Homo sapiens: one gene and its partner. The protein of the gene in region 2 interacts with the protein of the main gene of each other region in a pairwise test. Each region holds a gene or a part of one and is shown on either strand. Other genes may lie near its edges.

Region 1 (3,817 bases), on a different chromosome or scaffold from region 2:
TTCAGATAAGCTGAATTCTGGTTTGGCCAAGCCAAACAAAAAGGAATGAAAACCAAAGCCCTAAAGAGGAACTCACCTCCTGGCTAGTGCTTGGCATCTCCATGGCTGAGTTACCCAACAAGGAGTGAAGGCCTTCAGGGTGCTTCGGTTGCTCCTGTCATCCCGCGCTCAGAGACACCACTGGGCAGAACCGCCATCCCAGCCAGCACCAACCAAGAGCATAGATGGTGTGGGCAGGGAGTAGATGTGTGGCCAAGCATGTGCCACCTCTGTAGGGGCTGCTGGGAGTTTGCTGTCCTCAGCTGATGGGCATGCCAGCCAACACCATGCAGTGCCCACGGGCTCCACGGTCTTCCTGCCGTGGCTCATGTTTCTGGCCCATGTGACAGCTCTTTGGCTTTACCGTATGTGAGGACAGCATGGCTGGAAGCCAAGGGTACTCAAGAGAATCACAAAGAGCAGTCGTGCTAGACCTAGGAGTCAGTGATGTGACTATGATGTGGGGGTAAAATGTCCTTTCTCACAGGCACCCTGTGAGGACTGCCGGTCCCAGCTTAGCCATCCTTCCCTCCTCGGTGCACTCTGAGCTGCTGGCCAGGCTGCAAAGCCAGAGCTGCTCTGTCGGATGTTTTTTTTTTATTGCTTCCTCTTTATCCCCTCCCTCAGATTGATTCTGCAGGGAAGTGGGGATTAGGGTAGAAAGACATGGGTCAAGGAGATTATCAACCTCCTGAATAACAGTACAAAGTGCTTTAAAGAAACAGATCCCACAGGCATGGAGAAGGGCCAAGGGTTCTGTCATATGTAGGGTCTTGGCACCCTGGAGGGCAAAAGAAATGCTCAGTTTCCTCATTACTAGATTTAGAATTATTCATTTCCTAGATTATTTTTTAAAAACCAAACTTATCAAGCCTGTGCTTAAACACCTTAGGAAAAAAGACGTCCCACTTTCTGCACCAGGGCCTCTACAGCACCAGAACTGCCTTTCCCCCAGCTGAGGCCTAAGGGGCAGTAGCCTTCTGCACAGGGCCTAGGGGAAGGTTCTCAGCAGGAGGTGGGTCAGTCCATATGCCCCAGGGAGCAGAAGCAGCTCCGTCGGGCAGGAAGGGTGATGGTGAGCAGATAGGACAGGACGCAGTCTCCAGAAGTGCTCAGGGGCAAGGCAGGGGAATGTGGTCCCTCCTCTGCCCAGACCCTCTGACCTCTGAGCAGGGCCTGTCATGCCTCTGGGTGCTAGAGCAGAGACCCAGGCAGCAGCAGCATGGGGTGGCCAATGGGGCGGGTTCCACAGGATGGGAGATAGGGCCTCCCGTGCCCTGACTCCCTGAGGGTCTGGTCAGTCGCGATGGGTAGACTGGTGGCCGAGCTGCCGGTCATCGTAAGTGCTGTAGCGCTTGACGTGGATGCGGCGGACACGGTCCCGCAGTTCAAAGGTCTCCTCATCTTCACTGGGGGAAGCCTGGCTGCGGCTACGGCTTGTGGCCTCCAACAAGGAGTTGTCGGGGACGCGGGGAGTCTCATAGAGTAGGACGTTGAGTGTCTCCTCATAGATTCGGGCCTCTGGGAATTCCACCTGGGGTTAGGGAGGAAGAAGGTGGAGCAAGGTTTCATCTTCAAGAGGAAGCCATGCGTCAGAGCGGCTGGCCCTGAGGCTCCATAAGGCCTCCGCTACCTCTCATAAAACAGGTGGCGGTCCGTCTCCAGGGAAAGCCAGCCTCCCTCCGAAGGCGGGGTGAGGGGATGTACTCTACAGACATGAGGACAGGGAAGACCAACATCCTCCACACCCCTGCCCCAGCCTGAGACCAAGGGACTAGTGGGCATAGAGGGTGGGCCAGAGCTAGGTCCCAACACAGCTCTACCACTTGCTAGCTGTGGAGCCTTGGGCTGAACCCTTCTGGGCTGCAGCTCCCATATGTACAAAAGGTTGGTTCAGCTCAACCCCTGAGAGTTGCTGTCAACATTACGGGAAAGATGTGATTGCTTAGCAGAAGATTGGCACACAGCAAACCACCAAGCAGAGGCATACACAGAGCAGCTGCTATGCTGAGTGGTTATGCTGCCTTTCTCTGCCTGCCTGACGCAGTGTGTCACCGGCATGACCTGCCTGGAGGAAGGAGAAAGGGAAGGCAGTCAAGCACCTGAATTCTAGCCAGACCTGCTCTGTTGGACTGAGCTTCTGTTCACTCATCTGTCACATGGGGAGAGTGGCTCTAGCCCTGCGTGTCTCACAGGCATGTTGTGAGGGGTCACACGAGTTCATGAAAGACAACACACTTAAGAAGATGCCAGGTGCGCTGCCACTTCCGTCGCAGCATCACCAGCCACTGGAGACCTGCCCCTGAACCCTTTCACCACCGATAGGGTCAGGAACCACCTGTCGCCCTCCCTCCCACCCCTACACCAAAAACCGCAGAAGGAAGCAGGGCCACCTGTAAGTTGGCCTTCCCCAAACCCTCTGCAGATCTCCCAGCTGGAGGCACCTGGAGTAGTTTGGGGGTCGACAAGTTGCTTGGCAAGTCTGGCTACTTTGAGCTCTTCACACCCACATGGCCCTTCCTGGATGACCTGCCATCCACCCCAGCGTATCATCTCCAGGACCTGCACTCACAGGAGGCAGCTACTCTCTGGGGTAACTGACTGCAGCCTGGGGGAGAGGGGCCACCTGAGTTTGTGATGACTGTCACCTATCAAATGCCTCCTGTGTACCTGGCACTAAGTTGATTAGCCAGAAACCCCCAGCTGGTTGGGGCCAGTAAGGAGATTTTATTTTATTATTATTAAAAGTGTTTGGAAGTGGAATCTTGCTATTTTGCTTAGGCTGGCCTCAAACTCCTGGGCTCAAGGGATCTTCCCACAGCAGCCTCCTGAGTACTTGGGACTACAGGCATGTGCCACGATGCCTGGCTAATTTTTCTATTTTTTGTAAAGACGGGGTTTCACCATGTTGTCCAGGGTGGTCTTGAACTCCTGGGCTCAAGTGCTGTGCCCACCTGTGTCCCTGGCTCAGACAGGAGATCTGAACAGCATTCTAACACGAAAGCCCAAGCTGTTTCTACACCACACTGCTGCTCCAAAGAGTTGTATCATTTTCATATCTCGTTAAATTCATACTATCATCCCCATGTCTGCAAATGAGGAACCTGAGGCCCAGATGGCTTAAGTGGCTTATCCAAAGTCAGAAAACTGGCAAGTGGTGTGAGCCAGCGTTCAAACCTGAATTGGGCCAACTTCAAAGACCCAGTCCTTCCCACTGTACTAGGCTACTTCCTGGTGGTCAACGGCCCCTGCCCTGCGCTGTCAGGAACAAAGCAGTTCCCGTCCATTCCCCACACCCCTTGTTCTGGCCTTGTCCTTGCCCAGCACCATTACCGTGTTTGGAAAAAAGAGCCAAGTCCATGCCCCTTTTGCTCCGTGCTGGTCACAGCCCGACCACGTCCCCCGCACAGTGGGTGTGTGTCCTCCCCTACCCAGGCAGGGGCAATCCCCCACACCTTGGTCTGCTTCTTCTCCGTGGCATACACGATGGAGGTACAGCACACCTCTGCCAGCTTACGGCCCTGGCCATAAAAGGACCAGCAGCAGATCTCGTCACCAATGACATCCTTGATGAAGAGCACGCGGCCGTTGAAGCGCAGGGAGAGCTTGTCAAACAGCTCGATGTTTTTCAGCAGGTGGTCGTCAGAGTTGCTGAAAAAAACATGAGGGCCAAGCGGCTGGGAGTGAGGTTCCAGTCCAAGGGAGGGTGCTAGACAAGTGGGGCCCTCCCCTCCCTCCCTTCCCCCATCCTGTCCTGCCGAAATGAAAGCAAGATGCC
Region 2 (3,817 bases):
CCACCACTTTGGGAGGCCAAGACGGGCGGATCACTTGATCCTCTTCAAGAGCAGCCTGGCCAACATGGTCAAGCCCCATCTCTACTAAAAGAATACGAAAACAATTAGCCAGGCATGGTGGCACGTGCCTGTAATCCTAGCTACTCGGGAGACTGAGGCAGGAGAATCACTTGAACCAAGAGGCAAAGGCTGCAGTGAGCCGAGATTGTGCCACCACACTCCAGCCTGGGCGACAGAGTGAGACTCTGTCTCAAACAAACAAACAAAAAATGTCTATATAATATTACCTCTTTTTTTGGTTAAAAAAATTGCTAGAAATACATGTGTGTATATATATATGAAAATAGCAAAAAATTCGAATAACACATACTAGATTGTTAACATGAATTGTGTGGTGGGGGGGAAGCCCAGAAAAAAAAGAAAAGAAAAAAAAGTGAAGGAATAAAGTCCTTGTACAAAGAGATCTTGAACCACCAAGCTTTCACCATTTGTAAGCTCCTTTCTTGCTATACAGAAACACAGCTCTTAAAGGACTATCGGTATCACAAGATAAAAATTGAGCCAAGGATCAATCTAAAACTAGAAATTAGAACAGTGACCTAAGGCACAAGAACAGTCATGCAGCAATGTCAGTTAAAAATAAAATGGAAATGTTTCTATTCCCCTTTTAATTTCTGTTCTTGAGGAAAATTAAACGAATCCACTGTTATTATGTAAGGAAATGGCTATAAAGTTTAGGAAAACTTGTCATTTCAAGGAGATTCCACGAGATGGAATGGAGTTTAGAATGTATACATCTTAATCATATCAACATGGACCAAACCATTCCTAAATAAATCTTTAAAGTTTTCAAGAACTAGCAAAGCAAAGGACTCTCCAAGAAATTTTTTGGAGCTTTCCCCTTACACATTAAGAAAGAAATTGAAAATTCAGACACTGGCAGTTTAGTTATCTGACATCACTTACCCGTAGACTCAAAATCAGGAGTTTTATACTTCAATGACCAGTCAATGGGGTCAGGCCTCCTTACTGTCACTCCTTCCGTTTTTAAAATATTGCACATTTCTTCAATTTCAGCAACAGCCTTTTTCAAATGATCTTTGGGAAAATAATGCCCTCCTTGCTTCTGGTAAAATGGCCAGTACTTTTCATATGTGTTGGCCTGGAAGTAGAAGCAAATAAACACAATACTTACAGGAGAAAAATACAGCTCATGATAGGTTCATAGGCAGTAAACAGCTCTTTGTATAAGGTATTGGAATTGAGACTCCAACCACTCCATGTTCAGTGCTGATCCCTAGCATTGAGCACATAAGCCCTCTGGGCAGACACTCAGTATCTGTTGAATGAAGAACTCTAAAACATCTTGATATTTTGAGGCCTTTTGCTCCTCCTGCCTGAGATCTCATGGCCAACCACTAACAGCATGTTTACCTTCAGACAGACTTGGAATCCTCTTGGCCAGTTTTTTTGCCATGCTTTGCAGACAAAACAGGACATAGCACTTCTATTAGAGAGCCTCAATAAAATGAAACAAGAGAACACACAAACTAGCATAAGAGAATAAAAGCACTTATACTAAGCCAAAACCATGGGCTATCCATGCATCTCAGAATTCTGTCTAGAAAATAGCACCTCAAGATATTTTGTGAAGGGAAAAAAAAAGATATTTTGCCCCGTTAAGATCAGGAGCATACTTTCAAATATGCTTTATTTCTCTTAAAACCCCATTATTGGCCAGGCATGGTTGCTCAGCCTGTAACCCCAGCACTTTGGGAGGCTGAGGCGGGCAGATAGCTTGATGTCAGGAGTTCAAGACCAGCCTGGCCAACATGGGGAAACCCCATTTCTACTAAAAATTCAAAAATTAGCCAGGCATGGTGGCACGTGCCTGTAGTCACAGCTACTTCAGAGGCCAAGGCAGGAGAATTGCTTGAACCCAGGAGGCAGAGGTTGCAGTGAGCTGAGATCGTGCCACTGCACTCCAGCCTGGGTGACAAAGCGAGACTCTGTCTCAAAAAAAAAAAAAGAAAAAGAAAAAGAAAAAGAAAAAAAAAAACATTATTGATTTTCCCATTCAACAGAATTAACACTTGCCAAAATTGTGTGACAGTGCAAATCTGCCTTTGGTAATTCCCTGTCAATATGCCTCATACCAACCACACCTCTCCTTTTTCTAATCCATTCAGCTCTCACATCTCTTCAAGTCTTTTTGTCATACAAGGAAGTGATATGATAAGCAAATTCACAAATTTTTAATAACTGAAAAAAAATTTAGAAAGTTTCCAGGGCTATGTGTATTTTAGAAGACAACTAAAGAGAAAACATTTGAATGCTTTAAAATGGCTCAATCAGTTTGCTAAAAATTATTGTTGAATAGGGTAGGTGCAACAGCTGTTAAATATTGTTGTTTGTTTGTTTTTGTTTTTGAGATGGAGTCTCACTCTGTTGCCCAGACAGGAGTGCAATGGCACCATCTCAGCTCACTGCAACCTCCGCCTCCCACCAGGTTCAAATGATTCTCCTGCCTCAACTCCCTGAGTAACTGGGATTACAGGCGCATGCCACCACGCCCGGCTAATTTTTTGTATTTTTAGTAGAGACAGGGTTTCACCATGTTGGCCAGGCTGGTCTCAATCTCCTGACCTCGTGATCCACCCGCGTCGGCCCCCCAAAGGGCTGGGATTATAGGTGTGAGCCACCATGCCCGGCCAAAATATTGGTTTTCAAAAATGTAAAAATCTAGACAGATTCTGCATTCAGATTGTTTTCCAAATGTCTAAGTTCTTAGTCAATTTCTCAATCATAAATACATTGAGAAATGTACGTGATGCATCTTCCCATTTTTCAAGCTAAATGAAGCAGAACGCCAATCAGAGAATCCAGACTCTAAGAAAAAGCCTTGAACCTTCATCAAAAGATTAGCAAAGCAATGTACATTGATATATTTTAAGTTTAAAAATGTTTTAAGTGTTTTAATTTAAATTTTTGTTTAAAACTGGTTAAAGCAGGTATTTTAAAAATGTTTATTTATATAATTGATGAACTGACAAACTACTAGTCCTGATCATGTCAGATATGACAGTCTCCACCATAAATCAGATAATTTCAGATAGCAATAAGTACTAGAAAGGTGTAAAACTTGGTAATGGGCTCAAGTGTGTCACAGTGTGTCTACTTTAGCTGGATATTCTCATTTGGTTTCCCAGCAATCCTATCAAAGAAACAGGGCAAGTTCTCATATGCTTATTTCACATGTAAGGAAAGAGGCTCTGGCAGGTCACATGCTTGCTAGCTATCTGGACAAGCAGGACTAGAACTCAAGTTCTCTGACTGTTACTCAAAGAGTGTCCCTAATACATCATGGGACTTGGCCATGTTATACTGGTTTGAACACTTCTAACTAGATGTGCAAAAACTTTTAAGACTGGAATTGCTTAACAAGTTCAAATTGTCCCAATGGCTTTTACTCATCAAGACTGATCAAATGTCTAGATGTTTAGCTCTTTAATGTCAAAAACAATATCTTTTCTAGATTTTGTGTCTCGACTTCCATTTTTATCTCAGTCTGACAAATATCAAATATATGAAAGTGGACCCATCTCTGGTTAGTTCAATATCCAGGTTCACATCAGTTACGCTGGAACCTAGCTTGGTGAATAAGGAATAAGCCAAGAAACAGGTCTTTAGAAAAACTGAATGATGCCAGTGAAAGTCTTAAACAGAGGCTGGTAAAAAAAGGTCCATAGGCAAATTTGGCCTGCTGCTTGTTTTTGTAAATAAAGTTTTACAGGAACGCAGGCACATTCATTTGTTT

Evidence for each region.
Region 1: the proteins of GATM (region 2) and TNFAIP1 interact in binary tests that used the Homo sapiens proteins (3 or more experiments, as listed by UniProt).

The regions. Positions count from the first base shown.
Region 1 is NC_000017.11:28,342,120-28,345,936, reverse strand, and holds part of TNFAIP1 (BTB/POZ domain-containing adapter for CUL3-mediated RhoA degradation protein 2), read right to left. Parts: intron 3,691-3,817; coding exon 3,495-3,690; coding exon of another isoform or gene 3,373-3,494; intron 1,574-3,372; coding exon 1,337-1,573; coding exon of another isoform or gene 1,234-1,336; 3' UTR 1-1,233. UniProt on the Homo sapiens protein: Substrate-specific adapter of a BCR (BTB-CUL3-RBX1) E3 ubiquitin-protein ligase complex involved in regulation of cytoskeleton structure.
Region 2 is NC_000015.10:45,368,360-45,372,176, forward strand, and holds part of GATM (glycine amidinotransferase, mitochondrial isoform 1 precursor), read right to left. Parts: intron 1,163-3,817; coding exon 967-1,162; intron 1-966. UniProt on the Homo sapiens protein: Transamidinase that catalyzes the transfer of the amidino group of L-arginine onto the amino moiety of acceptor metabolites such as glycine, beta-alanine, gamma-aminobutyric acid (GABA) and taurine yielding the corresponding guanidine derivatives.